Regions from separate parts of the Homo sapiens genome. Here regions 2 and 3 are each linked to region 1. The links come from fine-mapping of genetic effects on gene expression. A gene starts in region 1. Each other region holds a variant in brackets. All regions are shown on one strand. Distances are between the middles of the regions. Region 1 holds the start of TDRD9 (tudor domain containing 9). Region 2 overlaps TDRD9 (tudor domain containing 9). Region 3 overlaps TDRD9 (tudor domain containing 9).

Region 1 (10,481 bases):
ATGGCGTGAGCCCGGGAGGCGGAGCTTGCAGTGAGCAGAGATGGCGCCACTGCACTCCAGCCAGGGAAACAGAGCAAGACTCCGTCTCAAAAACAAAAACAAAAAACAAAAAACAAACAAAAAGCCTTACAGAAACCAAGCAGGCAGATAAATAAAAATAAATCAATACCTTGAAATCTCACAATAAAGCCATAGAAAAGATAAAGATAAAATCTCAAAGAAAGTAACCACCAATCAAGAATTCTATACACAGGGAATTCTATACACAGGGAAATTGGCATTCAGAAAAGAAGGTAAAATAAAGACAGTTAAGGACAAACTAAGAGGAAATCGTGCTAGGCATGGTGGCTCATGCTTGTAATCCCAGCACTTTGGGAGGACTGCTTGAGCCCAGAATTTTGAGACCAGCCTGGCCAATGTATTAAGATCCCATCTTTAAAGGAAAAAAAAAAAGAGGAAATTATTAGGTTTTGAAGGGAAGGCAAGGGTTAAAGACAGACAAGACAGACACACACACACAGAGGGAGGGGGGGAGGGGAGAGGGGAGAGAGATGGTGGCTTCAACAGCAACACAGGTTTATTGCCAGCAAAAACCCGTGGAGCGGATAACCAGTTTAGTGCCCGAGCTCACTGCCGCTTCCAGGCTGGGGTAATTATAGGTCTGGGCTGGATGGGTCTGGGCAGTATGGCTTGCTGCCTGGCAGGATGTGATAAGGATGTTCCCGCAGTCAGGCAGTTGGGCAGGATGTTTCTTATGGTCAGAGCCCCCATGGAATGTTTCACTCCGACCAGGGTCTGTGAAATGGTGGGGGGTTTATAAAATGGTGCAGCTAGGACTGAAATAATCACAAGCAGATCCACAGTAAAATAAATGTTCATTATTCAGGCACAAGGAAAACGAGCTCAGATGTGTCAAGATAAAATAATAAAAGGCTCAAGATCCAGTTAAAATCATTTTTTTTCTTTTTTGAGATGGAGTCTTGCTGTGTCGCCCAGGCTGGAGTGCAGTGGTGCGATCTTTGAAAATGTAAAAGTGTTATTCCTCTCACACACACACACACACACACACACACACACAATGTTTTTTGGAAAACATAGTGACGTTTTAGAAAAATACACTGTTTAACATCAAACGGGTTTATCATTTTAAAATAAATAAGTAAAAACATTTCTCAGTTGTAATCCCTGATAGACATAACCCACATAAACAAAATCTCTTTAGGGTCCTCAGCAACTTTTAAGAGTGTAAAGGGGTTCTGAGACAGAACCAGGTTTGAGAACCACTGTCCTATAGTAAAAATGTTTTAGAGTTTTAGATTTATAATGACTTATAACACTGCTGAGGACGAGAACAAGCATTTAGGAAAAACTTAAGGAAGAACATCATGGAGAGCTGCTTCAAGACAGAGCTTCTGAACTTCCAACTAGACTTGAGATCAATAGACTTTGCTATGTTGCCCAGGCTGGTCTTGAACTGCTGGCCTCAAGTGATCCTCCCACCTTGACCTCTCAAAGTGTCAGAATTACAGGCGTGAGCCACTGTGCTCAGACCAAGAGAGTTTTAATGTCTTTAGTTTCAAATCCAAAACACCCTAAGAAACGCACATCTTAAAAAAAAAAAACAACCAAATGTTTCTTTTTTTTTTTTTTTTTTTTTTGAGATAGAGTCTTGCTCTGTCGCCCAGGCTGGAGCACAGTGGCGTGATCTTGGCTCACTGCAAGCTCTGCCTCCCGGGTTCACGCCATTCTCCTGCCTCAGCCTCCCAAGTAGCTGGGACTACAGGCGCCCGCCACCACGCCAGGCTAATTTTTTGTATTTTTAGTAGAGATGGTTTTTCACCGAGTTAGCCAGGATGGTGTCGATCTCCTGACCTCGTGATCCGCCCGCCTTAGCCCCCCAAAGTGCTGGGATTACCGGTGTGAGCCACTGCGCCCGGCCAAAAAAACCTAAATGTTTAAGGAAAGGGCCACTCCAGCAGATTTATTCAAAGTGCAGAATGTTGCATCTTGTGGTAGGAAGGCTGGAGAAGACAGCAAGCTACTTCGAGCACAGCTTCCTCTGCTTTGAGGAGAGTGCTGCTGAATGGCACCAACACCATTTGTAACTGCTCTCAGCTGTTAGTTTCCCCTTTTTGGTGGACGCTCAAATGCTCAGTGAATGCAAATATGCAAAACCTTCCCAAAATACCATGGCTCACTAGGGGTTCAGTGGCCTTCCCATGTGTTCTGGCCTAGATGTGACAAGTCCATGAAGATCTATCTGATGTCAAGCTGTTTCTTGTTTCTTTTTTCTTTTTTGAGACAGAGTCTTGCTCTGCCGCCCAGGCTGGAGTGCAGTGGTGCGATCTTGGCTCACTGCAACCTGCACCTCCTGGGTTCGAGCGATTCTCCTGCCTCAGCCTCCCGAGTAGCTGGGATTACAGGTGCGCGCCACTACACCCAGCTAATTTTTGTATTTTTAGTAGAGATGGGGTTTCATCATGTTGGTCAGGCTGGTCTTGAACTCCTGACCTCACGATCTGCCCACCTCAGCCTCCCAAAGTGCTGGGATTACAGTCGTGAGCCACCGCGCCCAGCCCAAGCTGTTTCTTTTAACTCTGAACTTTGGACAGCAATGCAAGGTGAACTTGACCAAGTGAGTTGGGAGCACCGAGAACTACTGAATCAAATGAAAGGTGCTCAAAGCCATTCAGTCTGTGATGATTCAGAATGTTAACTAGTGTTTGGTCAGGAAACACTATGGCAACTTTCCAAATTGGCAAATTTCCAAAGAAGCATCAAGAGAGTATCTTTGGATTGCAATTAAAAAAAAAATCAAAACTCAGAAGGATTAGCTAGTAGCCCAAAAGATCAAAGAATATAGAAAATGCCCCCCAGAAAATGTTTTTGAAAAGCATCTTCCACTTAAAATCGTATTCATTGTGACATCAACAAAGGATGACAGCACACGGTAACAGCAACATCCTAGAAAAACAGGCCAGGCGCGGTGGCTCACGCCTATGATCCCAGCATTTTGGGAGGCCGAGGCGGGCGGATCATGAGGTCAGGAGATTGAGACCTTCCTAGCCAACATGGTGAAACCCCGTCTCTACTAAAATACAAAAAATTAGCCAGCCATGGTGGTGCATGCTTGTAGTCCCAGCTACTCCGGAGGATGAGGCAGGAGAATTGCTTGAACCTGGGAGGCAGAGGTTGCAGTGAGCTATCGCGCCACTGCACTCCAGCCTGGTGACAGAGCAAGACTCCGTCTCAAAACAACAACAAAAAACAAAACAAAACAAGTGTGAGTTCTGGAGTTGCTTCAAGTGGTTTCAATATATTTTGTAAAATTTTGAATTATGTCCTAGCCTCCACATACAGTGTGAAGTTACAATATTTTCCAATCAATGCTGAATGACATACCATGAGTCTCAATTACTTTATGATTACCTTTTTTCTTATTTTTTGAAAAACATGACTGGGCATGGTGGTTCATGCTTGTAGTCTCAACACTTTGGGAGGCCAAGGGCTCCCAAACAGATTGCTTGAGCCCAGGAGCTTGAGACTGGCCTGGGCAACACAGCGAAACCCCTGTCTGTACTAAAAATATAAAAAATTAGCCGGTGTGGTGGTGGCGTGAGCCTGTAGTTCCAGCTATGCAGGAGGTTGTGGTGGGAGCATCACCTGAGCCCCCGAAGTTGAGGCTGCAGTGAGCCCTGATTGCAGCACGGCACTCCAGCCTCAGCGACAGGAGTGAGACCCTGCCTCAAAAGAAAAAAGAAAAGCAAGTTATTTCTTCCTGGCAAAGTGTGTTGAGGCACTTTTGGGAACCTGTCGTATTTGGCAGAGTCCTAATATGAGGTCTAGAGCTCATTATGCCAGGATTTGGAGCCAGAACTCCTGGCTTAGTATGATTATGGGTTCAATTTTTGAGACACCAATAGCTCAACCTACCTGCCTGATTTCTGTCTACAGTGTTTTCAAACCGCCCTCTTATTTGCCACTGCTTGGGCTTTACACTGCTGATTAGAGCCATGCTCTCGATACCGTCTCTGTATTTGTTCACATGGCTCTTTCCTGAGAGCCCACATGGGCCAGATAGATCCTGCCCTGGCCAGTGAGGGGGACACACCCCAGGCAGGTGGCCATGTCTCTCTTCTGACCCTCCCTTCCCTTGCACACGTGGCTGCCTTCCCGTGCATCCTTTGTTGATTTCTTCCCGCGGCTCCTTCTTTTGGGGAGTTTGCTAGGGCTCTGTTCTCCACCCTCACTCTTCTAGAGCTCGGCCGGGACCACCTCAGCCTGTATCTTTGGTCCATGTGATCGCCTGGACCTCCTGTCCGCACCTGTTTGTGTCCAGCTGTGAGTCTGACACCGCCGCCTGAGACACCGGTTTAGGAAGGAAGATGAATTCAGTTATGATCCGGCTGCAAAGAACTTCTCCCAGATCCTCACCTCAGCCATCAGGGCCGCCTGCCCTCCCCTATAACCCTGGGTGGTCCTCCGTCTGGCGCATTCCCCCGTATCCTGCAGGGGTCTGCCTGGCGTTACTTTCTCCGAGACCTTCCTGACCTTCTTCTTGCCCCTCTCCCCCCATATTAGGTGCAAGGATGTCCTGGTACGTCTGACCCACGAACGCAAATCCCTTCTCTGGTTTGCCTTCCATCTCCTCACCCTGAGGTGCTCAAGAAACGTATGTAGGGTCCCGGTCCGCTCAAAGCGCACAAACCTCCGAGGCAGCAGCCTCTAAATAGAGAGGCCAGGGAGTGACCGGAGGGCATTTTCTTGTACACACAGGGGTTGCCACGGAACTCCCGTGAAACAGACTCCCGGGCCAGCCGCGGCGCTCAAGCTTCCCCTGAGGTCCTAGAAAGGCTCACCCTGGGCTCGCTCGGGGCGGCGGCTCCCGGCAGGCCTAGCGCGGCGGGGCGGGGCCGGCGGCACGAGGACCAGGCAGCGCGGGCAGCACGCGCCCGGGCCGGAGCCCGCCCACAAGGGCGCGCGGCGCGTTCTGATTGGAAGGCCTCGAGCGGGGGCGGGGCTTCCAGGGTGCGCTTCCGCCGTCGCCTGTTCCCGCCGCGGAGACCCGGCAGTTGGGGGATGCCGACGCCTGGGCCTTGAGGATGCTGCGGAAGCTCACCATCGAGCAGATCAACGACTGGTTCACCATCGGCAAGACGGTGACCAATGTGGAGCTGCTGGGCGCGCCGCCCGCCTTCCCGGCAGGGGCGGCCAGGGAGGAGGTGCAGCGCCAGGACGTGGCCCCCGGCGCTGGTCCCGCGGCCCAGGCTCCGGCTCTGGCCCAAGCTCCGGCCCGGCCGGCCGCTGCGTTCGAAAGGTAGGACGCGGGCGGGGCGGAGGCGGCTGGAGGGCGGCCGGGCGAGGCCTGGCGACGAGGGCACGGGCCATCCAGATCCTTCTCGCGAGCCCGTGCCCTCTCGCGGGGCTCCAGGGACCCCTGACCGTCCAGGGCGAGTGGTCACTACACAACCCGACGCGCGGCCCAGAGCGGTGCCTGTAAGGAAGCTGAGCTAGAGGTTTTTTTTTTTTTTTTTTTTTCAGTTCTTAATGTTTAACAGACTAGTTTTTGAGGCACTCAGGTTTTCAGGATAACGGAGCGGAGGGCAGAGGTCCCATAGGCCCCTTCCCTCCCAGAGTTTCCCCTGTGAGCATCTGCGTAAGGTGTGGGTATTTGTGACAGTCGGCGAACCTGCATCGCTGCGTCTTCGTCACCCGGAGGCCATCGTTACAGGAGGGTTCACGCCTCGTACTGGACGTTCTGTGGGTTTGGACAAACGCCTAACGTCACGCATTACAGAGTTCACTGACCTACAGATCTTCTCGGCCCCACTGTTCCTGCCTCCCTTTCCCTACACCACGTGGAAACCACTGATTTTTTTACTGTCTCCATAATTTTGCTTTTCCATACTGTCATCTAGTTGGAATCACACAGTATGTGTAGCCTTTTTGATGGGTTTCTGTCACTTAGTATTAGTATGCATTTGGGGGTTCCTCCATGCCTTTCCATGGTTTGATAGCTTCTTTCCTTTTAGCACTGATTAATATTCCACTGTCTGGATGTACCACAGTTTATCTCCATTCACCTACTGAAGGAGAGCTTGGTTGCTTCCAAGTTCTCCCCCCACCCCCCGAGATGGAGTCTCACTTTGTTACCCAGGCTGGAGTGGAGTGGCGCCATCTCGCCTCACTGCAATCTCCCCCTCCTAGGTTCAAGCGATTCTCCTGCCTCAGCCTCCCGAGTAGCTGAGGCTACAGGCATATGCCACCACGCCTGGCTAATTTTTGTATTTTTAATAGAGACAGGGTTTCACCATGTTGGCCAGGCTAGTCTAGAACTCCTGACCTCAGGTGATCTGCCCACCTCAGCCTCCCAAAGTGCTGGGATTACAGGCGTGAGCCACTGCGCCCGGCCTGCTTCCAAGTTTTGGCAAGGTTTTTGTGTGGACATAAGTTTTCAACTCATTGGGTAAATACCAAGGAGTGCAAATGCTGAATCTTTGTTAAGTTTCACAGACTCCCTCCTCATCTCACTATTCTTTAAGTAGCTACCATCAGTTACTCTGTTCACTTGATTTGGGTGGAAATAAAAAGCAAGAGTATATCCTCTGTTTTTAGAGGAAAGACGTAGATTTGGTGAGTAGAAACACCTGCTCCCTCTTCTCGCTCTTTAAAAAGGCCCTGGGAGAAGTACTTCCAGCTTGGAGTATCTCCGTCACTCTTGCTCAGTCCCCAAGTCCAGCACGCTTTACAGTTGAGAAGGTGGTTTTGTTTTTCTTTTTCTTGGTTTTTTTTTTTTGAGACATAGTTTCGCTCTTGTTGCCCAGGCTGGAGTGCAGTGGCGCAATGTTGGCTCACCACAAACCTCCGCCTCCTGGGTTCAAGCGATTCTCCTGCCTTGGCCTCCCGAGTAGCTGGGATTACTGGCGTGTGCCACCACGCCCAGCTTATTTTGTATTTTTAGTAGAGACAGCATTTCACCTTGTTGGCCAGGTCGGTCTGACCTTGTGGTCCACCCATGTCGGCCTCCCAAAGTGCTGGGATTCCAGGTGTGAGTCACCGTGCCTGGCTTTATTTTTCTTTTTTAAAGTTACTCTTGTTTGTTAGTCTTGTCTGATTTGATGGATAGGCCCAGACTCTGGGTCAAGCTTTCGTGGGTTGCTTCAAGCCTTTGTAGAGTTCTTTCAAGTACACCTTTGGGATCTTTGGTAAATTTGGTTCTTAGAGGCATAGGGGGGACCGAGAGACCCCTTGTGCAACTTTGGAGTTGCTGTTTGTATGTTTGCACACTTTACTTCCTTGAGCTACTCTGGTAAATGATCCTGTGGGCCGCCTCCCCTACTTAATGGTCCATCACTTACTCCTTAGTTTTAACGGTGTGAACAGCATTGCTATTAAATAACCCATTGTAATATTGGAAGTAAATTATTATTGACCTTGTCAGAAAGTATAGATTTAAGTGCCATTTTAAGCACTAAGGACAAGTTTTTAAGATTTCTAGTCCTTCATGGACTGAGACTTTTATAAAATCAATAAAAATGAATTTTCAGAGCAATGAAATGAAAAAAGACAACATACTAATCGCAGTTAAAAAATTATTAGATTCAATCTGGGTGTGGTGGCTCCCACCTGTAATCCCAGCACTTTGGGAGTCCAAGGTGGGCAGATCATTTGAGGTCAGGAGTTCCAAGACCAGCCTGGCCAACATGGTGAAACCCTGTCTCTACCAAAAAAAAAAACAAAAATTTGCCCAGCATGGTGGTTTGTGCCTGCCGCCCCAGCTACTCAGGAGGCTGAGGTGGGAGAATTGCTTGAGTCCCTGAGGCAGAGGTTGCAGTAAGCTGAGATTGTGCCACTGCACTCCAGCCTGGGTGACAGAATGAGACCCTGTCTCAAAAAAAAAAAAAAAATTCAACATATGTAAAATTACTTTGTGAAATTGATGTAAACATTTTAACTTCTGTATTTAACCAGTGACAGGCAATGTTGGTCTATGAGTAGTGCTAGTTTTGATGAAATTCTTCTGGAAGTAGCTTCCTGGGCTCTAGGTGCATATGTATTCAATGCCAGAGTTTCCAGCACGTAGCAGGCACTCAGCTAAATATAGCTATATTATTGAATCCGCACAACAACACTTTGAGGTTGATGGCTTTATCATCAACTGATTCTTTCATGATTTTGTAGATGAAGCAATAGGTTTTGGTGGTAAAGTGACTTGCCCAACTTCCTGTAGCAAATGGTGGTGATGGGAAGAATGACTCCCCCAAAGATGTTCACTGGAACCTGTGACTATGTAATGTTACATGGTGAAAGAGATTTCGCAGCTGTAATTAAGGTTACAGATCATAGGACAGGAAGATTAGCTAGATTGTCTGAGTGGGCCCAGTCTGATCACATGAGCCCTTAAAAGCAGAGAACTTTCTCAGGCTGGAGTCAGATAAATTTGAAATGAGAGATTTGAAATATCATTGCTCGGAGGGGCCACATGGAAAGCATGAGAATGGAATATGGGCAGCTAGGAGCAAAGACTGGATCCCACTTGACAGCAGGTAAGGAAATGGGTACCTCAGTCCTACAATTGCAAGGGACTGAGTTTGCAAGGGACTGATCCTACAATTGCAAGGGCCTGGTTTTGGCCAACAACCTGAATGCACTGCCAGTAGGGAACGCAACTCTGCTAACACCTTGATTTAGCTTTAGGAAACCCTAAGCAGGGGATCCAGTTGAGTTCACCTGGACTTGTAATTAATTTGCCTTGTTTGAAACTGCTATGTTTTTGCGATTTGTTGAGGCAGCACTGCATTAGGGTACAAATCTGGTGGCAGAGCTGGGTTCGGATTGGGGTGAGCCGACCTGTGAACCCCGCACGGTGCCTGGCACATAGTGGATACTTGGATACTTGTTGAATGTTATTTTTCCCAGTGAAGGAGAGTGTTGAGTGAGGCATTGACATTAGTGAGAGAACATTTGACATAGGGGAGGGATGGCTTTTTTTCTTTTTGAGACGGAGTCTCGCTCTGTCGCCCAGGCTGGAGTGTAGTGGCGCCATCTCGGCTCACTGCAAGCTCTGCCTCCCGGGTTCACACCATTCTGCTGCCTCAGCCTCCTGAGTAGCTGGGACTACAGGCGCCCGCCACCACAGCCGGCTAATTTTTTGTATTTTTAGTAGAGACGGGGTTTCACCGTGTTAGCCAGGATGGTCTCGATCTCCTGGCCTCGTGATCTGCCTGCCTCGGCCTTCCAAAGTGCTGGGATTACAGGCGTGAGGTACTGCGCCCGGCCGGGAGGGATGGCTTTTATAAGCATAGGGTATTGCACAGTTAAAATGTATTTGTTAGAGATAGTCACTCAATGGTAAAATTAGTGTACACCAAGTCACTGCAGTCCGGTCTGAGAGAGTGTTGTTAAATCAGCTTAATGATTAAATCAGCTTAAATCAGCAGAAGAACATGGGCAATTTTTTTTTTAATCAGCTTAATGAGTAGTGACCACCAGCATTAAAAAATAAATAGAAAATGCCAGACTACATCATAGGTAGTTCAGACAAGAATTGCCGGAGATGGTGTGGGCGCCTGTGGGTCCCAGCATGAATCTTGCTCATGCTGAAGGTGAGTAACACCTTACTCACGATGAAGGTGTTGCCGGAGTGCCTGTGGGGAACAATTTATAAATTTTGTTTCCAGTGATTTTTACGGATTTCCCCATGTCTCCTCTTCCACATGGTACTGTATTTTACTCTTTGATGGTGATTATTCTTTCTGTTATCCTTACATTCTCGTGTCTTCACCTTGGCATATGAAGAAGAAAACCTCAGTGGCTGTGATATACCATTTTGAGCATTCTCCAGTGTGTAGCACCAGCTTTCCTGTGGATTGCAGCCCATGGCTGGGAGCCTTGCGTCACTCCCAGCTTCCTTCTGCCTTGTGTTTCTTTGTGCTTTCTGCCGTGTACTTTCCTGTCTTCACAGCTCACGTTAACTCCTGGCTCATGAAGATCTTACTTAATTCTCGCTTTTGTGTCTTTGACTGTTCAACACCTTATTAAAATGTTCTTTGTCTTTGGGAAGCCTTCATCATAGGAAGCTTTCAGATTTCCACTATCTGGTGATTACTTTCTTCTAGTTCCCTAATTTATTTTATTTTATTTCATTTTACTATTATTATTTTAAAAAATATTATTTAAAAAAACAGACAGGGTTTTGCCATGTTGCCCAGGCTTGTCTCAAACTCCTGAGCTCAAGCAATCTGCCTGCCTCGGCCTCCCAAAGTGCTGGGATTACAGGTGTGAGCCACCGCATCTGGCCCAGGTCCCTAAGTCTTGGTTTTTGCACTTGTCTCTTACTGAAGTTGAATGCCTGCTGTATTGGGCATTGTGTCAGGTGACACAGGAAATGAGCCGTCTCGGCCCTTCTGACAGATGGGGGAAGTTAAGATCAGAGAAGTTGAAGTTTACTTTGTCCTAAGTCCACATACCTATTATATTGT
Region 2 (10,481 bases), 120 kb after region 1:
CTACAGGGGCTTCCATACTGCCCGAGCACGACATGGAGCTTGCGTTTGACGTTCAATTCAGCGTGGAGGATGTCGTCGAGGTAAGGGTAGTGCAGCATCACGGCACCACAACCCTGTCTCTCTCTGGTTTTGCTTACCTGACAGTGAGTGCAGGGTCTGCTGTGGAGCTCGCGGTGCAGACACACACCTCTGGTCCTGGAGATGTGCACGTTCCTTGTCCCTCCTGGAGTCACCCTCCAGGAGGACCGCTCCTTAACTTGCCAGTTTGATGTATCTTTCCTGTGAAAAGTAACTTCCTGATGGTGCTCTCTGAGTCTCTCATTTGGTGTCTCCTGGCATAAGCTTTTCTGGGCAATCAGCTAAACCACGGGGCTGTAGGGCTGCTGTGGGTCTCATTCCAAGTCAGGAAGTGGAACATCCTTGCTAGTTCTTACTGGGAAAGGAGGACACAAGGTCCTGCCCCTCTGCCCTTCTCCCGGCCTGGTGACCATGCTGAGCAGAGGGCTGGGTCAGCGTGAGTGCAGAGCTGAGCTGCTTGCAGCATTGTCTGGGCACCGCACTAGCTCTGGGGTGAGGTGGCAAGGCAGACAGGGAAACTGTGTAGCAAGTACACAAAGTATTTGTATGTCATTTGAATCTAATAATAGAAATGTGGGCTCGTATTTGTGTACATTAAAAAAGATCTTTCATCGTTATAGTAATTTATTTTTATTGCATTTTACAAAGTGGGAAGACCAAAACTGATCCTTTACCACAAATAGTTTGAGAAATGCTACTTTCTAAGTACTCAGTCGCCTTTCTTTCTTAGAAGTTCCATGAGACGGGTGAGGTTAACATAACCACACTGAAGGGCCGGGGGAAAGGAGGAGCTGCAGAGACAGCTGCCGATGCTCCGGGGGCAGGTATCAGTGTTGTCTCTGCAACTGTTAAGTCATAATTGCCTGGTCACAAGAAGGGGCTTATGGGCTTGAAAATACTCCTTAAGCCATAGACCTAATGGGAAAATGTAAAACTATTAAAGTGCTACAAGCAAATTCAGGAAATCTGTGTGACTTTGGGTGTGGCATGAGTTTATAAATACAACACCCAAAGCACAATCTGTGAAGGGGAAATTGATACGTTTGAATTTATCAAAATTAAAAACTTTTGTTCCGCAAAAGACCCTCTTCAGAGGAAGAAAAGACAAAGTGCACACCAGGAGAAAATAGTTACAGGTTACATATCTGATGAAGGACTTGTATCCACAATATGTAAGGCACTCTTAAAACTCAATTATAAGAAAACAAGCAACAGAATTAAAATACGGATGACAGTAAACCCATGAAAAGATGCTCAGCATCATATGTCATTAGGAAAATGCAAATTGAGACTTCCATGAGATAGCACCACCTACTTACTGGAATGGCTGAAATCCAAAACCTGACAGTAACCAGCAATGGCAAGGAGGTGGTGCAGGGGGACCGGGGACCTTTTGTTCATTGCTGGTGGGAATGCAGATTAGTACCACTATTTTAGAAGACAGTTTCATATGAAGTTAAGCCTGCATCTACCATATGACCCAGGAATCCCATCTGTAGGTATTTATTCAAGAGATTTGAAAACTAGCATCCACATAGAGCTTGTATGTGAATATCAATTGCAGCTTGAGTCATAATTGCTAAAAACTGGGAGCAGTCAAGATGCCTTCAGCAGGCGAGTGGATAAACCATACTGATGACAGAGAATACTAACTCTGAATGCTATGAATTCTCTAACGGGATGAAATTCAGTTACGACGGAGCCTTATGAGTGTTTATGTTGCTGTTCATTTACAGGTTAATATTCTCAGGGCTGCTATTAACAAGCTAGTCTGTGATGGACCAAATGGATGCAAGTGTCTTGGGCCAGAGAGAGTTGCGCAGCTTCAAGACATTGCCCGTCAGAAGCTTTTAGGGTAAGCTGTGTGATGACGCGGGCTTCTTTTCTTCCCAGTCAACTTTCTCAGCTGCCTTGATCATGGCTGTTTTGAATTGTGTAGGCAATGTGACATATTGATCACCTGAAGTGGAGTGCCAGTGCTGGAGGCAGCACTGGGAGGCATCAGAATGTAGGCACGCCCTTCCTGTGGAGAGCAGCACCCTTGTCCTGTGTGTGTGTGTCCCTTGAAGGGACAGCGTGGGCAGGGCATGGGAAGCCACAGTGGGTAATGTGTCACCCACCATTCCTAGTGGTGGGTGTCTTAGGGATTGGGGGAGTCCGGCTTGTAGGATTGGGCCTTACAGAGCTGGGCCTCTCTTGAACCTCTCTGCAGGGGAGGTTGGAGAAGGAGCATTCTGACCTGACTTCCCTGTTTCTCACCTCCTGCTGGACTCTCCATGGGACAAACCAAACCAGAATGCAGACACAAAAGGCTCCTGTTGGTGTAGCCCATGAGCCCAAGGCAGCTTGAGGGCCCCGGGAAGGCCAAGAAGAGTGGGAGTGGTCATGGAGGAGAAACCAGCATTCCACCTACCCAGTCCTGTGCTCCTGCCCCAGAGCCAGTCTCCCTGGGAAGGGCCCGGTCCTTCCTTGCCTGACAGTGTCCTGTGCTGGCTGGGACCTGGACCTCTGTGAAAGCAGGTGGCATCTGGTATCACGGTGACACTTCTCTCCTTCCTATGCCTTTTGGGTTGGTTTCTTTTAGTTTAATAAGCATTTTTTAAAAAGCTATATATAGCTGTCTTAGAAATGGTGAGAAAGGCCAGTTTTAGTTTTCTCTCTTCATTTTCTTTTATATAAAAATATTTTTAATATTTATTTATTTATTTTTAGAGACAGAGTCTCACCCTCTTGCTCAAGCTGAGTGCAGTGGTGCGAGCATGGTTCACTGCAGCTCCAACTCCTTGGCACACATGATCTTCCCACCTCAGCCTCCCTAGTAGCAGGGGCTACAGGTGTGCACCACCACACCTGGCTAATTTTTAAATTTTTTACATAGATGAGGTCTTGCTATGTTGCCCAAGCTGGTAATTTTTTTTTTTTTTTTGAGAATGGAGTCTTGCTCTGTCACCCAGGCTGGAGTGCGATGGCACGATTGCAGCTCACTGCAACCTCCACCTCCCGGGTTCAAGCGATTCTCCTGCCTCAGCATCCAAGTAGCTGGGATTACAGGCACCCACCACCATGCCCAGCTAATTTTTATATTTTTAGTAGAGACAGGATTTCACCATGTTGGTCAGGTGAACTCCTGACCTCAGGCGATCCACCCGCTTCAGCCTCCCAAAGTGCTGGGATTACAGGTGTGAGCCACCATGCCTGGCCAGTAAAAATATTTTTATGTAAAATGTGGGTTGAAGTTTAAGTACACAGGTATATGCCCATGTGGCCAGCACCGAGGTCAGAGCCCCGGTGCTCCTTAGGGTGTGCGGGTGTGGTTGTAGCCACCATCACTCCCTGCCCCCAAAACAAGGGTAACTGTATCCTGCCTTATTATGCCATAGGTAGTAGGTATTGGTTTGTTTGTTTTAACAATTCAATAACTCTAGTGAATTTATAGTTGTGCAGTCTGTCAACACAACCTAGCTCTTCAGCATTTCTGTCATCCAGAGAAGTTTACTCATAAGTATTGTCGGGAAAGGCAGTCTCATGCAGGCAGCCTTTGATCCCCTCTCTGCTGTCTGAGAACAGGCCTTGGGCCTGAAACGCTTCCTTCCCATAAGATTAAGGGTCCTCACAGCCTGTGGGGGGCTCGTCGCCATGTGTGGGAAGATCTTTCCTTGATTCCGGCTCTGCCCTGCTTAAGCCTGTGTGTCATACGGTACCTGGTCAATCCCACCACTGCAGGGATGGGACAGGGCTCTCCTGCTGCCACATAAGAGAGGGGCCTGCAGGCCTGCCTTGTCTTCCGGGAGGTACCCGCTGGCCACAGGGACCGCTGCCAGTCACTAGAGCTGATCCTGTCCTGTTGCCTCCCTCTGTAAGTAAAGGTTCGTTCCAGCCAGGGTCTGACTGTGTGTTTTCCTTGGCGACTCCAAGACAAGATGCAGGGGTGCCCTGACTTCTCCTGGCAGCAGGCAGCAGATGCCACCTGCTTGACTAATATATTAAAACAGAATGTGTCATTGTTTGTACAACCCCATAAATTTACTAAAACTAATCAATTATGTTCCTAAAGTTGATGACTTTTAGGATATGTAAAGTACACCTCAGTAAAGCTGTGTTGAGGATCGAAAGTTCCCCCTGTCCATTTACACGCAGTCTTGTTCCCACCCCAGCCCAGGTACCACTGATCTGCTTTCTGTTTATATATTTGCCTTCTCTGACATTTTTATATATGTGGAATCACATTTTAATTTTAAAATCTGGCTTCTTTCACTTAGCTTAGTACTTTTGAGGTTTATCCATACTGTATCATGTTCCTTTTTACTAAATAATATTTCATTGTTTGTTATGCCACTTTTTTAATCCATTCACCAGTTGATAAAATATTTGGATTATTTCCAGTATTTGGCCATTATGAAGAAAGCTGCTATGAATAGTCACATACAGTCTTTTTGTGAACATGTATTTTTCTCTCGGGAAGATATCTATGAGTGGAGTTGGTAGGTTGTATTGGTAGGTTTATGTTAATCTTTTAAGAAAAGGCCAGGGCCAGAC[G/A]TATTGGCTTACGCCTGTAATCCCAGCACTTCGGGAGGCTGAGGTGGGCAGATCACCTGAGGTCAGGAGTTCCAGACCAGCCTGGCCAACATGGTAAAACCCTGTCTCTACTAAAAACACAAAAATTAGTAGGGCATGGTGACACACGCCTGTAATCCCAGCTACTTGAGAGGCTGAGGCAGGAGAATTGCTTGAACCCAGGAGGCGGAGGTTGCAGTGAGCCAAGATCACGCCATTGCACTCCAGCCTGGGTGACAACAGCGAAACTCTATCAGGAAAAAAAAAAAAAAGGAAATAGCCAAACTGTTTTCCAAAATAGCTGTACAATGTTACATTTCTACCAGCAACATAGGCTGGCTCTGGCTTCTCCACATTCTCACCAGCACGAGGCACCGGCACGTGTTGTTACTGCAGTCAGTCTGGTGAGTATGGTAGTATCTCATTGTAGCATTAATTTTCGTTTCCTTAATGACTAATGATGTAGAGCAACTTTTTATATTCCTCTTAGCCAGTCATTTATCCTTTTTTTTTTTTTTTTGGTGAAATGTCTGTTCAGATCTTTTGCCCATTTTTAAATTTGTCTTTTCATTATTGAGTTGTAGAAATTGTTTTTAAATTTTAGATACACGTCTTTTATTGGTTAAGTAATTTGCGATTAGTTTCACCATTGTGTAGCTTGTCTTCTTATTTTAATGATGTCTTCCAAAGAACACAAATTTTTAATTTTGATGAAATCTACTTGCTGTGGTTTGAATGTGATATGTTTGAAACCTAATACCCAATGCAACAGTGTTGGAAGGCTGGGCATAATAAGGGGTTGACTGGACTCATGTCATCATTGTGAGAGAGGGTTAGTTATCAAGAGAGTATGGATTGTTGTAAAGTGGGTCTGCCCCGGTGCCTCTTCCTGTCTCAAGTACTCACTTGCCCCTCTGCCATGTCATGATGCAGCAAGAAGGCCCTGGCCAGGTGCTAGAGCCATGCTCCCGCACTTCCCAGCTCCAGAACTGTGAGAAATCAAGTTCTTATCTTTGTAAGTGACCCACTCTCTGGTCTTCAGTTATAACAGGGGAAAATGGACTAAGACACTACTTTATCTTTTTTTTGAGACGGAGTCTTGCTCTGTCGCCCAGGCTGGAGTACAGTGGTGCAGTCTCGACTCACTGCAGCCTCCACCTCCTGGGTTCAAGCGATTCTCCTGCCTCAGCCTCCCGAGTAGCTGGGATTACAGGCACACGCCACCAAGCCCAGCTGATTTTTGTATTTTTAGTAGAGATGGGGTTTCACCATGTTGGCCAGAATGATCTCGATCTCTTGACGTCGTGATCTGCCCGCCTCAGCCTCTCAAAGTGCTGGGATTACAGGGGTGAGCCACCGCGCCTGGCCTACTTTATCTTTTTAAAAAATGAATTATGTTTTCGGTGCTATATCTTAAAAAATCCTTGTTAAACTGAAGGTCACAATCATTTTCTCTCTTTTTGTAATTTTTTATGTTTAGGTTTTTGATCCATTTTGAGATGATTTTGTATGTGGTATGTGATACAAGAGCCTAAAGTCATTTTTTGCATATGAACATCTAGTGGTGATGACATCATTTACTGAAAAGCTATACTTTTACCATTGAATTGCCTTGGTACCTTGGTCAAAAATGAATTGGCCATAAATGTAAAGATTTATTACTGGGTTTTCTGTTTTGTTCAATTACTTTATATCTATCTTTGTACCAGTGCTATACTGTCTTAATTGCTGTAGCATTAGTCCTCCTGTTTTATTCTTTTTCTTTTTCTTTTTTTTTGAGACAGAGTCTTGCTCTGTTGCCCAGGCTGGAGTGCAGTGGCGTGATCTCGGCTCACTGCAAGCTCCGCCCCCCGGGTTCATGCCATTCTCCTGCCTCAGCCTCCTGAGTAGCTGGGACTACAGGTGCCCGCCACCACACCTGGCTAATTTTTTTGTATTTTTAGTAGAGACGGGGTTTCACTGTGTTCGCCAGGATGGTCTCGATCTCCTGACTTTGTGATCCGCCCACCTCGGCCTCCCAAAGTGCTGGGATTACAGGCGTGAGCCACCGCACCTGGCCTGCTCTTTTTCAAAATTATTTTTACTCTTTTATATTCTTTTCCTTTCCATGCAAATTTTTGGATCAGCTTGTCAGTTTGTATAAAAATCCTTGTTGGAATTGTGGTAGGGATTGTGTGGAACCTGTGAGTCAGTTTGGGGAGAATTGCCATCCTAACAGTAGTGAGCCATCCAGTCCATGAAGATGGAGTGTCTGTTCATTTGGGTATTCTCTAATTTCTCTTAATACTGTTTTAGAATTTTCAGTGTGCAGGTCTTGCACTTTAGTTGTTTCTAAATATTTTAGTTCTTTTAATGCTATTGTGAATAAAATTGTTTTCTTAATTTTGTTTTTGAATTTTTTTTAGAAAGGAACAGTTGATTTTTATATATTGGTCTTTTATCCTGTGACCTTGTTAAACTTCTGTATTCTAGTAGTTGTTTGTAGATTCCTTAGGATTTCCTACATACAAGATCATTATTATTATGAAAGCTTTCTTTCTCTAGTAATGCTTCTTGTTTTAAGGCCTATTTTGTCTGATATTAATATAGCTACCCCAGCTCTCTTTAGCTACCATTTGTGAGCTTTTTCTATCCTTTTACTTACAGTATATTTGCAGTTTTGAATTTTTTCAAATATTTTTTTCTGCCTCGTGCCCGCTCTCTTCTCCCCTAGGGAGACATTGCTTTGCACGTCTGTCAGTGCGCTGGTGTTAAACGCGTGCTGACACGGTCGATACGGCCTCACTGGTCTTTGAGGCTCTGGTCACTCTTCTTCAGTCTCTTTCCTTTTTGTGCTTCAGATTGGTTAATTTCTGTTGATCTGTCCTAAGGTTACTGATCCTTTATTATTTCATCTCAGGTCGACGTGGATGCGGTACAGAGAATTTTCCATTTCAGTCATTGTACTTTTCAGCTCTAGGATTTCTGTTGTTTCTTTGGTAGTTTTTAATTTTTATTGAGATTATCCCTGATTCATTGTTATCCTATTTTTAAAAAACTTCTTGGCACCTGTTCACAGTGGCTGCCTTGAGGTCTTTGAGTGCTGAACCCACAGCTGGCCACACACTCAGCCTCTACTGGCTGCTCTTCTGTGTGTGGGCCACACATTCCTGTGTCTTTGATGTCTCCTAATTTTTTTGTTGGAAATTGGGTACTTTAGATAATGTACTGGAGCAGTTCCCCCAGAGCTGCTGTTTTTGGGTTTTGTGGTTTTGTTTGTTTCACTTTAGAAAAGTGCCTAGTCTTAACCTGTAAGTCCATCCCCTGTGATGTGAGGTCACTGATGTCTGGGTTCTGCTGTTTTGTTATGTTTTTAATTTTAATTTTTATAGAAACAAGGTCTCACTTTGTTGCCTAAGCTGGAGTGCAGTGATGTGATCATAGCTCACTGCAGCCTTGAACTCCTGGGCTCTGGCGATCCTCCTGCCTCAGTCTCCCAAGTAGGTAGGGCTACAGGCATATGTGACCACGCCCAGCTCGTTTTGTTTTCTTTATTCTTATTTTTATTTTTTAGCCTGGCTTCCTAGGTGTTGTCCTTGTATCTGATCTGCACAGCTTAGTGCTTAGCCAGTGATCAATCAAAAGTTGTCTTTAAATACTGCCCTGAAGGCTTCTGCCCTTTGCCATTGGAGCTAAGTATGGGTTGAAAAGTGCACTCCAAGTTCAGGCACTTTTTGATTCTTCCCTGGCCTCTATTTTTCTCAGGGCTTCCCAGGTTTTTCCCACGTGTGTGCACCCCTCCATCAGTCAGGGATGTGTGGAGGGCCTGCTCCCCCTCTGTGGCACTCTCCTTTCCAGAGTCTCCCTTTTACCTCCTGAATAGTCTGGTCTGCTGCTGGCCCCAAGCAGGATGTGGCGTGAGGCTGGAAAGCTATGGGCTTTCCCCATCTGTTTCCTTCATTGCTGTTTTTACTGACAATGCTCCAAGTCAAGGTGTGAGGATTTTTCCCCCTCTGATCCAGATCACATAGCCTTTATGGCCCTGGGAGTGCTGTGGTGCTGGGTTCAGGGGCAGGTGTATGGGGTGGGAGCGGCTCCCTACCCCAGCAAGAACTCCACATACTCCACTGTTCTCACCTGGAGCTGGCAGTTTGTCATGAATGAATGCTTCTCAACTTGTTGTTTGCCTTTGCCTTTGGTTAATTTCCAGAGCCTTCAAATGGTTGTTGTTGGTATGTATGTATGTATGTATGTATGTGTGTGTGTGTGTGTGTGTGTGTGTATGTATGTATGTATGTATACAGTTTTGCCTTGTTTTATAGTTTTTTAGTGGGGAGAGGCTCTGCAGAACTCTTTACTCCCTCATTGTTCAAATTCCCTATCTTTTTAAGCTGATGATATTTCCAACTTGTCATGATTGCTTGAGAGCTAATGGTACAAAATGTCCTGTTACATTTCAGAGAACTTGACTCATTCATGTGGTGTGCAGTGCTGGTTGCTAAGGGAACATAGAGACAAGACTAGGTCTTACAGATCTGTCACACTCCATTTCTTTCTGCTTTTGAATATGCCATAGATTAAAATATTTTCTGATCATAACTGCATAAATGTTGACCTTTAAACAGTTTATTCTAGTTCCAATTCTGTGGGAAGCATATAGGATTTAAATCTTTAAAAAAATCACAGCAGTGTTTTCAGTTACTAATATATAATTAAGATAATTTCTTTTTTTTTTAAATTAGTTTGTTCTGTCAGTCAAAACCAAGGGAGAAGATTGTTCCCAAGTGGCATGAAAAGCCCTACGAGTGGAATCAGGTGAGTGGGACGCAGGCTGCTACATGAGCAGAGGCCACGTGGAGGAGGGGACAGGCCCTGGGCAGACCCAGGGTTCAGAGCCAGGGCTGGCCGAGGGTCTGAGAGGCAGAGACAGGAGGCAAAGTGGATGGCTTTGGGGGCCAGCTGGCAAATGTCTCAGACCAGACAGGCTGTTTCTGCACAGTGTCTTCTATGTGATGTCCCGGCAAAGAGTCAGACACCAGGATAACTCACTGCCTGTGAGTTGGGAAAAAAAGGTATGAGGGTCTGGATTGAACCTTCCTGCTCTTGTTGGTCTTTGTGAAATGCACCTTGGCTGTTCCTTCCATGTGGCTGGCTTGGTGGCTTTCGGGCTGTACTGGTTGTTGTCTTTGTCTGCTTGAGCTGCTGTCACAGTGCCACCACGGGTAGGGGCTTAGGAACAGCAGACATTTGTTCTCACAGCTCTGGAGGCTGGAAGTCCTAGGGAAGGTGCCAGTTTGTGGGTCCTTGTGAGGACCTCTGAGGGACATCTGCAGATGGCCACCTTCTCACTGTGCCCTCACGTGAAAGAGAGACGTCCTCTCTTAGGGCACAAATCCCATCCTTGGGGTCCCACCCTTGTGACCTCATCTAACCCTTATCACCTCCCAGAGGCCCCATCTCCAAATAACATCACAGTGGGGGTTCGGGCTTCAGTGAAGGAATTTTCAGGGGCCACAGTTGAGTCATGAAGAAGGACAAAGCCCTTCATAGGCTCCCTGGTACTTCCTGTCTGTAGGGCTAGAAATGGAATAAAATGTGATTTCAGAGAAAGGAGCCCAAAGGAGTTTGGAGATTTAATTCCAGAGCCAGGGATATCTCTAGATACAAAGCAGCAGGGGCAGTCTTCCCCTCCCCTTTGACGATCTAAGTGAGGCTCTGCCTTGGAGGACTGTGTCCCATCCTGCGCCTCAAGGTTGCTCCTGCTGTGAGGCTCGCCTGCTCCCCCTGTGCCCTGTGCCTAGGTCCCTCTTTAGAGACCCCAAGGCTGATCCTGGCAGCCGGCCCCATTGTGTGCAGAGCTCCATGGGCAA
Region 3 (10,481 bases), 33 kb after region 1:
AATCCCAGCTACTCGGGAGGCTGAGGTGAGAGGGTCACTTGAGGCTAGGAGTTCAGGTTCATCCTGGGCAACATACGGAGACCCTCTCTTTAAAAAAAAAAAAAAAAAAAAAAAAAAAAAAAAATATATATATATATATATATATATATATATATATATATAATTATTAGGCCAGGCGCAGTGGCTCATGCCTGTAATCCCAGCACTTTGGGAGGCCGAGGCAGGTGGATCACGAGGTCAGGAGATTGAGACCATCCTGACCAACAGGGTAAAACCCCGTCTCTACTAAAAATACAAAAATTAGCTGGGTGTGGTGGCGTGTGCCTGTAATCTCAGCTACATGGGAGGCTGAGGCAGGAGAATCACTTGAACCTGGGAGGCAGAGATTACAGTGAGCCAAGATCGTGCCACTGCATTCCAGCCTGGCAACAGAGTGAGACTCCGTCTCAAAAAAAAGAAAAAATTATTAGAAGCCTTTAAGAAATATAGTGGCGAATACAAAAATTAGCCGAGCATGGTGGTGCATGCCTGTAGTCCCAGCTACTGGAGAGGCTGAGGCAAGAGAATCGCTTGAACTGGGAGGCAGAGGTTGCAGTGAGCTGAGATCATCCTAAATAGTCTGTTCTTCGGAAGACTAATAATGGTTTCTTACCTTGCTATTAATTAAAACTACTTTTTTTTTTTTACAATAAAGATATTAAAATGACATTTTAAACAATGCAGAAATGTATAAAATAAAAAAGTAAAAGGTCCTTCTTAAATTCCCAGTTCCCAAGAGTACAACTGTTCAGAGTTCACCGTTAGTTACTTTCTGTGAGTATGGAGTTTTTTTCTGAGCAAATTATCTTACTAGCACCAGGCCCTATTCATATGCTAGAAGTTATCTTTTGATTTTTTTTGCTTTATGAGAGGTCATCTGTCATAGATTTCTGCTAGTTCAGTTGAGAAGCTCTGCCTCCTGTCCTGCCATCCTGCGTATTAGTGTGCTCAGAGTCGGGCACAAATGTGGGTTCAAGTAACACTTTCTTTTTTAGCCTTTTAAAAAGTATGAAATACAGTCAATACATAATAGTAGATTAATCCTTATCATTCTTGGGATTGATTTAGGCTTCTTGACTATACCAATTAGTACCTTTTAATTAGTCTAGGAAAATTCTGAGCCATCATCTATGGCCCACTCTTTCATTTAGTTTTGTGTTTTTCATTTTTTTGGTCAGTGTGCTCTGTTCTGGTTAATTTCTGCTAGATCTATCACCTTAAGGTAAAAGCAGCCTTTGGTTGTTTGCCTCCCTTTCTGTGTTCTTGCCTCATCACAGGCTTTGGCCTGATGTCTCCTTGCTATTTCATCAGCCCTTTGGTGCTTTTAAGGAGAGGTTTGTGTATTTCATCTAACATCTTTAGTTGATCTCAGGAAGGAGATTTGTCTGAACAACCCAGTGTATTAACAGAAGTGAGCATTCACAGTGTATGTTATCTCTGGTCCAATTTCTACTTATGCTAAGAAAAGTACAAAGTTGTACGTATAAGAATGTTTATTGAATTGTTACTTAATCTATGGGAAGTCTTAAGAATCTCCTATATGCCAGTGAACAGAGGATTGGTGACTTTGGTCTTTTGTACAAAGGAAGAGTACTGTGCAGCTTTGGAGGTAGGAAGTAGCCGTATGTGTTATTGTGGAAAGAGAGCCATCATCTAATACTTCTGTTTGGAAAGCACATTAGTTAGTTTATAGATGACTCTGTGTGATGTGATCCTTCTTGTCACACTCACGTACTGGCCCAGGGGCACAGGCAGCAGCCCGGCACACCCTGCGTGCTGGGCCTGTAGCGTGCCGGATGGATTACCACTCTTTAGGACTAGCTAGATTACAAATGAATGCCTGAAACTCGAAGTGTCTGTTCTCATACTTTTAAGTTCATATGTGAAACTCTCTTTGCTTTCTTTATGCATGGTATCATAATATATTTGGGGCTTTTCTCTGGGCAGTCGGATCAACTATGGCTTTGGCTATTTATGGAGGTTTGGGCTACTTAGCCACTGACATTTATCAAGGTGTGTTCCAGGGACTGTATGAGACAGCGAGAATATGACAAGTAAAAAAGACTTTAACTCTGATCATCTCTGATCATTGTAGAGATGATCATTTAGTCATCCAGTTACACAAATAAATGCTTTTTGGAAATAAGTTATCTGAAAGCCAGCTCTATGGGGGTGTAAAACAAGGATTTGACTTGGGCTGTGGTGTCAGGAAAGTAACAGTTGAGCTTTGATCTGAAGGGTGAGTGGACCTTACTGAGGCAGTGTGGGGGTGCAGGGAGGGAAATGTGTGCAGAGGCCTTGTGCTGGGAGGAAGCCTGGTATTCCAGCCCTGAAAGAGGGGCCAGTGCTGCTAGGGAGTAGACAGTGGGTGTGGGAGGGCTGGGCAGGGTCAGCTGGAGGCTAATAGCCTCCTAAAGAGGTCCATGTTCTAATCCCCAGGACCTGTGAATATATCACCTTCATGGTAAAGGGGTCTTTGCAGATGCAAATTAAGGATCTTGAGATGGGAAGATTTTCCAGGTGGGCCTAATGTCATCACAGGGTTTTTCCTAGAGGGAAGCAGGAAGATCAGTCAGTAGTAGATGTGACAACAGAAGTCATAGGTTGGAGTGATACAAGGAAGAGGCCATGAGCCAATGCAGGCAGCTTCTCCATGGCTGATAAGGCAAGGGAATAGATTCTTCTTTACAGAGCCTCCGGAAGGATCCAGCAGCCATGCCAACACCTTGTCCTTCTCATCTTTGAACCTCTGCTTCCAGAACTGTAAGAGAATAAATGCATGTTTTAAGCCACTAAGTTTGAGGTAAAATGTGACAGCAGCAGTAAAAAACTAACACACTTGTATTGGATGAGGTTGGATGAGATAGGCAAGACTAGTAATAGGGCCTGTGGGCTGTAACGAAGAGTTTTGGTCTTAATACTCAGAGCAGTGGGAAGGTATGAAAGTTTCCATGCTTTTCTTGGGATGACTGTGAAGGGAGGAAGAGGGTGTCATGTGTTTAGATTTGTGTTTTACAAAAAGTGCTTTGGTCATATTTTTGAGAGTTGATTGGAGGGGGCCAGAGTGGACCTGAGGAGAATTGGAGGCATTGTCCTAGTCCAGGTGAGACTTGATGGTGTCTTTGACAGAGGATGGCAGTGGAGGAGGAGAGCCAGTTGAAGGACAAACCGGACAGGAATTGGTGATGCCTTGGACACAGGGTGAGGGAGGAGGCCACAGGAGGCAGAGAGGTGCTGTCCACTTCTTTTTCCTTGAGATGAGGTCTTGCTATGTTGCCCAGGTAGGCCTTGAACTCCTAGACTCAAGTGATCCTCCAGCCTCAGCTTCCTGAATAGCTGGGACTGTAAACATGTCACCGTCATGTCTGCTAAATGTTTTGAAGTGTTGAAGTGCCTCTGGAGCACTGAAGAAGTAAGGTCAGGTTATCGTGTGTGTGTGTGTGTGTGTGTGTGTATGTATACATACACACACACACACACAGACACAAAGCTATTTCTATGTCTATTTCTATTAAAACCATGAGATTACACTGATGCCTCTAATTCCAGTCCAGTGCCACAGGTTTCAGCATGAACATTTTGTTATATCCAGTTATAAAATAATTTGATTCAAAACACTTTTGATTTTGGCCTGATACAGGTGTTATTTCACTTATAAGTATTAAAAATTATTTCTAAATAGAAATCCAAGGACACCCATTCAGTGAATTTCTATCGATTACAGTAGAATCATTTTACATGGTTAAAGATTAATCATTTTTTAAAAACTGAGATTTATTTGCATTGATAAATGAAATCTTTCCTTACAGTGTGAGCCTAGTTCTAGGTTGTCGACTCCTGAAGGGTTCTGTTGCTTTCACACAACAATTTGAATTTGTCCTGGGATACAGTCTTTAGATTGTAGTTAAATTCCACAGTGCTGCCTCCTTTTAAATGTGGTGATATATTTAGTGGCTGTTTTCATCCTCCTTTTAGCTTTTCTTCTGGTTTTAAGAGAATGGCCTATGTGGAATGTCTAATAACCGAAAGAGAAACATTATTCTTCCTTCAAGTTAATTTTGTATTCAGAATACTAGTCCATATTTGGAGAAAGTCATATATAATTATCTATTTGGAAGATTTAATTTTATGGTTACATCAGTAATCCAGTAATTAAAATTATTTTCTGTAATATATAGTGTGTAGATTTGAAGATAAGTCTTAAGTTCACCATGTGAACTGACATACTTACCAGTTAAAATTCCTTACATGCTGTTTAGAACCTCTAGGTGCTGAACTTTTTGGTTAGATTTCATATTTGGTTGATGGTGATATAGTGATATGTCTTAGTGAAGAGAACTAGCAATTTTTATGGCTTCCAGTTTTCCCCAGTTCATGTAAAACATTGTGTTGTTAATCATGTAGGATAAAGAGACAGCAAGAAAATAAGAATAGTCAATTTTAAGGTTGAGCTGGTCCTCATGCCGTTTTTGGATTTTTGCTTTGTTGTATGTAGTTTGTTGATTTGCCTTAAATTATCCGTGATGGATTTCCTTCTTATTCTGTTGCTGATGCAAAGGTGCGAGAGCCACACAGCTGGGAACATTTCTGCTGTTTGGTTTCCTGTCTGCCCTTTGGCAGTGTACGCGGAGGCAGGACTTGATTTGTGCTGGGTCTGCTTCAGCCAGTGACCTAAAAATGTCAGCTTGTGTTTTGCGTTACATGGAGAAGGGGCTATGGTATAGACAGTACCGTTAGGACTTCTGGCATTTTTTCTTGTAAAATTTCTGTCTTTAAGTAGCAGTCTTCAAAATGCATGTAATCAAGTAATGTAAGCCAATATTGTCTAAGTAACAGGGCTTGTTTAGCGGCATGTGAGCCAGGGCTTGAAGTCTTTTAGCAAAACGAACGTGGCTGCAGCCTTTTTCGTCTTTCTAAAAGAATCTTTGTCACCTTCTTTCCCCTTTGAGTAGCTCTTCCTCAGCTTCTTACTCCCACCCTGTTCCTCACTAGAATACTTGCCTCTCCCTTTGTCTGCATGCTGTGTCTGGGCTCAGGGCCTTCTTTCTCTCAGTCCAGTTCACAAGGGCCATGGGGATTCTCTTCCCCTTCTTTCATTATGTTCAAGAAGGCCTAGGTATATTAACTGGGAAAACAAGAAGGCATCAGTAATTACCATAGCACTGAGAAGAGGAATGGAAGGAAAGTGAGACGTGATAATGGAAAGAAAATCCCTGTTTTAGTAAACTTGGCAATCACTAGTTAGGCTGATTAGAAGATTAAAAAGCCATAGGTCAGGCGTGGTGGCTCATGCCTGTAATCTCAGCAATTTGAGAGGCCGAGATCAGGAGTTCAAGACCAGCCTGACCAACATGGTGAAACCCCATCTCTACTAAAAATACAAAAATTAGCCGGGTGTGGTGGTGGGCACCTGTAATCCCAGCTACTCAGGAGGCTGAGGGAGGAGAATCGCTTGAACCCAGGAGGCAGAGGTTGCAGTGAGCCGAGATCGCGCCACTGCACTCCAGCCTGGGGGACAGAGCAAGACTCTGTCCAGAAAAAGAAAAAAGAAAAAGAAAAAAGGAAAAAAAAAAAAGCCATATCGGCAGGACAGCTTTCCTGAGTTAGGGGTCACTAATATTTTAGGAAGAACATACTCACAAAGAAGCTATTTTTGCTTTGAGAAAGTATGACAGATCTGGTTCCTCTGTTTATATAATTGAGAACAGGGACCACGTAACTTTGATTCAAATGTGGGAAAATAGCCACATTTTAATTACATGTTATTAGACCAGTTAGGAAAATGGGAATATATGTAGGGAAAAGATGTAGGAAAACAAGAGAGAAGCCTGGTTGTGTGTTTTATTAGGAAAGGCCGAGGGTGACACAGCAGGAGATGCTGGTCAGAAACAAGGGGCTGATAGGAAGGGAAGGTGAGTCGTGGGGTAAGGGAATGAGTGCGGTGCTAAATTTGGCTAAGAGTTTATTTTGGAAGTAAAACTTATTTCCCAGCAAAAGTTTGTCTTCCGTGAGTTTTGATGATTTGCCAGTTTGTCAAGTGATGACCAGAGGTTTAGAATTTGTAGTGCAGCCAGAGAGCAGGGCATGTTTTTACAAGAGGGCAGAGAAGTGTGCCTGGTCAGAGCTCTGTGTCATGTATCCTGAGCAGAGGCAAGCTGCCTGCTTTCCTGATACCTGTATTTCATAAATTGTTTGATTTATTTATTGCTAT[C/G]ACTGATGTATTTTAGTAGCAGGGAATGCACACTTAAATTGATGCATTCTGTTGAAATTTCAAGGAAAAGTTTTCTCTTTAACTGTTTTGGTACCACTGAATCAGCAATGAGTGCGTGTTTTACAGGCCTGTTTTAGAAGGCAGTGCTGAGCTTGCAATATTGGTGGCTGTGATGGAGGGATAGAATGTTCTCAGTTTGCTTTTATACAAGATTAATAGTGGGCTGCTAAGGGAAGTTTCTTAAGAAATTAAACTTTTTATTTTAGATTCGGGGGTGCATGTTCAGGTTTGTTACAAGAGTATATTGGGTGATGCTGAGGTTTGGGCTTCCACTGATCCCATCACCTGTATAGTGAACACAGTACCCAGTAGGAAGTTTTTCAGCCCTTGCCCCTCCCTCCCTCTTCTTCTTGGAGTCCCTAGTGTCTGTTATTCCCATCTTTATGTTCGTGTGTACCCAAGGTTTAGCTCCCAGTTGTGAGAACATTTAATATTTGGTTTTCTGTTTCTGTGTTAATTTGCTTAGATGGCCTCCAGCTACATCCATGTTGCTTGCTGCAAAGGACATGATTTCATTCTTTTTTATGGCTGCATATTATTCCATGGTGTATATGTACCATGTTTTCTTTATCCAATCCACCATTGATGGATACCTATGTTCGTTCCATGTCTTTGGTATTGCCCTGATGGCAGTTTTAGCCTGTAGAAAATGTATTTTTGTATTTGAGTGTGTGTGTGTGTGTGTGTGTGTGTGTATGCTGTATCTATAGATTAGAACATTGAGTTATCTTTTTCCAGATAAGAAATGGCATTGTATTTGTTTGTTTTGCCTTAATCCAGGTCCAAGGCCATCTTTGGCTAAATTAAGCAGTGTGACATGCATCCCAGGGACAACTTATAAATATCCTGATTTGCCTATAAGTCGATACAAGGAAGAGGTAAAATTGTTTTGTTATACTGTAATTTTGCTGTTTGAATACATGTCTGAGGCCCAATACTTTTGGTTTCTAATTTGAAAGTTACCAGTTGCCAGGTGAACACTTCTGTGGTGTACAAGGTTCTGTGGTGGATAAGAGGAGGGTGTGCTCAGGCCAACCTGCAGATGATTTTGTGTAGTAACCATATCGATGGCTTTTCTTTTGATCTGTGCTTTAATTTCTTTAGTCTTCGCCTGAGTACATCTTCTAACATTTAGTTTATCTAGTCTTTCCTTCCTCAAAATATCTGCAAGTAAACACTTAGTCTTCCCCAGGAGAGCTTCTTGTTTAAATAAACTCACTGCTAAATGTTTTTATGAAGCAAATGACATACCCTAGCATTTCCACTGGGTTTTCTTTACAGCGTTGGCCCTTTCTCTGCCTGTTGATTAATGTAATCAATCATTGACATACCATTGTATTAACAATGCCAGGCAGATGTAACAGTAGGACGATTAAGTTCCTAATTACTTGCGTGTTATTAAGCATCGTTAAGAGTAAGCGTATCGGAACCTTTATTAACTGGAAGAAGGAGTTACAGATAAAACTAGAAATGTTTCAAATTTAATTTTTACTTTGCTTTAGAGTAAATCATGCAACTAAAAATTAGAGGCCAGTATTCAAATTAATTTGTATTTCCTGACCATATCAATTGTTAGAAGGATAAGAGCTTAAATAAGTTTAGAGTGGAGGTCGGGGAGTTCTGGAGGAGGAATTTGAGTGGAGTTTTAAAAATGCTGCATATAATCTGTAAGTGGAAAAGTGGAAGTTACTTGTTTCCAAATATGTCTGGAGGTGGGAGGATCACTTGAGGCCAGGAGTTCCAGACCAGCCTGGGCAACATAGCAAGACCTCATCTCTACAAAACACACCCCCCAAAATTAGTGGAATATGGTGGCACGTGCCTGTGGTCCTGGCTTGGGATGCTGAGGTGGCAGGATGGCTTGAGCTTAGGAGGTCAAAGCTGCAGTGAGCCATGATTGTGCCACTGCACTCCAGCCTGGGTGACAGAGCTAGAGCCTGTGTCTAAAAATAAATAAACAGATATTTAATAGATAAAAATATGTCTGAAGAATTTAAGATGACATTTTAAAACCACTTGAATGTAGTAACAGCTCTTTTTCTCATGTTCAGTAGAATTATTTGCAGATTCATTACAAAATGTTAATAGAAACTTGGGAAGAGTCATAGAAATCTAATTTTACATTTTCATTTTTACAGAAGCAGTTGAGACCCAGGAAGCTGGAGTTAACCTGGCCTGGTTTTTCCACAGCTATCACTAGTTACTATTTTTTTTGTTGTTGTTTTTGTTTTTTTGTTTGTTTGTTTTGAGATGGAGGCTTGCTCTGTCGCCAGGCTGGAGTGCAGTGGCACGATCTTGGCTCACTGCAACCTCTGTCTCCAGGGTTCAAGCAATTCTCCTGCTTCAACCTCCCAAGTAGCTGGGACTACAGGCGCGCTACCATGCCCAGCTAATTTTTGTATTTTTAGTAGAAGCAGGGTTTCACCATATTGGCCAGAATGGTCTCGATCTCTTGACCTCGTGATCCGCCCGCCTTGGCCTCCCAGAGTGCTGGGATTGCAGATGTGAGCCACCTGTGCCCAGCCACTAATTACTGTTAAATAGGTAGTAGAGTTGCATTTAAGTGTGGCAACCGTTTGTCGCCTCCTTGCTCTCTTGTGTTGTGTTTAGAATGGTTAATTAATAACTTTAAGCAATTTGGGAAATTGCTGGTAATCCCAGCAATTTGGGAGGCTGAGGCAGGCGGATCACTTGATGTCAGGAGTTCAAGACCAGCCTGGCCAACACGGTGAAAGAAACCCTGTCTCTACCAGAAATACAAAAATTAGCTGGGTGTGGTGGTACACGCCTGTAGTCCCAGCTACTTGAGAGGCTGAGGCATGAGAATCGTTTGAACTCAGGAGACAGAGGTTGCAGTGAGCCGAGATTGCGCCCCTGCACTCCAGGCTGGGCAACAGAGCGAGACTCCATCTCAAACAAAACAAAACAAAACTTTAAGATGAAAGAAAAATAAATCCTGAAAGACTTCTTAATATAGGTGATACTTTACATTGCCATTTTGTGCTGATTTTGAAAGAATTTTTTAAATTTCTAGGTTGTGTCTTTGATAGAAAGTAATTCCGTGGTGATTATCCATGGGGCCACGGGAAGCGGTAAAAGCACTCAGCTCCCGCAGTATATCTTGGACCACTACGTTCAGCGCTCCGCCTACTGCAGCATTGTGGTCACCCAGCCCCGGAAGATAGGGGCAAGCAGCATCGCCAGGTGGATCAGTAAAGAGCGTGCCTGGACCCTGGGAGGTGTGGTGGGCTACCAGGTGAGACTGGGAGGGAGGGAGGGACTAAGAGAGCCAGCTGTCTCTCTATTCCTTAATTTTATTAAGTTTTTTTCTGTGTAAGTTGATAGTATGTGACCATTTTCTGCTGAAAATTAGTTGTGTCTCATGCCTGTAATCCCAGCACTTTGGGAGACCGAGGCAGGCGGATCACATTAGGTCGGGAGTTTGAGAGCAGCCTGGCCAACATGGTGAAACTCCGTCTCTACTAAAAATACAAAAATTAGCCGGATGTGGTGGTGCATGCCTGTAGTCCCAGCTACTCGGGAGGCTGTGGCAGGAGAATTGCTTGAACCCGGGAGGCAGAGGTTGCAGTGAGCCAAGCTTGCGCCACTGCACTCCAGCATGGGCAACAGAGTGAGACTCTGTCTCAAAACAAAAAACAAACAAACAAACAAAAAAAGAAACCAGCTGCTTATAGAAGAGAACTGTGGCATAATTTTAAAAAGCAGTGAAACAGAATTTCTTGAAAATAAGGCTGGGCATGGCGGCTCACGCCTGTAATCCCAGCACTTTGGGAGGCTGAGGCGGGCAGATCACTTGAGGTCAGAAGTTTGAGACCAGCCTGGCCAACATGGTGAAACCCCCTCTCTACTAAAAATACAAAAATTAGCCAGGCATGATGGCACATGCCTGTGATTCCAGCTACTCAGGAGGCTGGGGTATGAGAATTGCTTGAACCCGGGAGGCAGAGGTTGCAGTGAGCTGAGATCATGCCACTGCACTCCAACTTGGGTGACAAAGTGAGACTCTGTTTCGAAAAGAAAAAAAGAATTTCTTGAAAATAAATTGTAATTTCTTTCCAGTTGAATAGGAAAGCAGTAAGAATTCTCATGCTTATGGCTTTTATAATTTTATCTTTTTAATTATATCTGTAATCTAGAAGATGTCTTGATA

Evidence for each region.
Region 2: its variant is fine-mapped to the expression of TDRD9 in whole blood (INTERVAL, PIP above 0.99).
Region 3: its variant is fine-mapped to the expression of TDRD9 in whole blood (INTERVAL, PIP above 0.99).

What each region holds. Positions count from the first base shown.
Region 1 is chr14:103,923,408-103,933,888 of GRCh38, forward strand. It overlaps TDRD9 (tudor domain containing 9), which reads left to right and starts at 5,049. Exons shown (of 36, transcript NM_153046.3): 1 at 5,049-5,317. The coding sequence starts at 5,103.
Region 2 is chr14:104,040,255-104,050,735 of GRCh38, forward strand. It overlaps TDRD9 (tudor domain containing 9), which reads left to right. Exons shown (of 36, transcript NM_153046.3): 33 at 1-80; 34 at 1,815-1,933; 35 at 9,354-9,426. Among named protein-coding and RNA genes, the nearest start is that of ASPG, 40 kb to the right of the region's middle. The variant G/A (reference allele first, on the strand shown) is at 4,615.
Region 3 is chr14:103,955,989-103,966,469 of GRCh38, forward strand. It overlaps TDRD9 (tudor domain containing 9), which reads left to right. Exons shown (of 36, transcript NM_153046.3): 3 at 7,091-7,188; 4 at 9,345-9,566. Among named protein-coding and RNA genes, the nearest start is that of RD3L, 19 kb to the left of the region's middle. The variant C/G (reference allele first, on the strand shown) is at 6,251.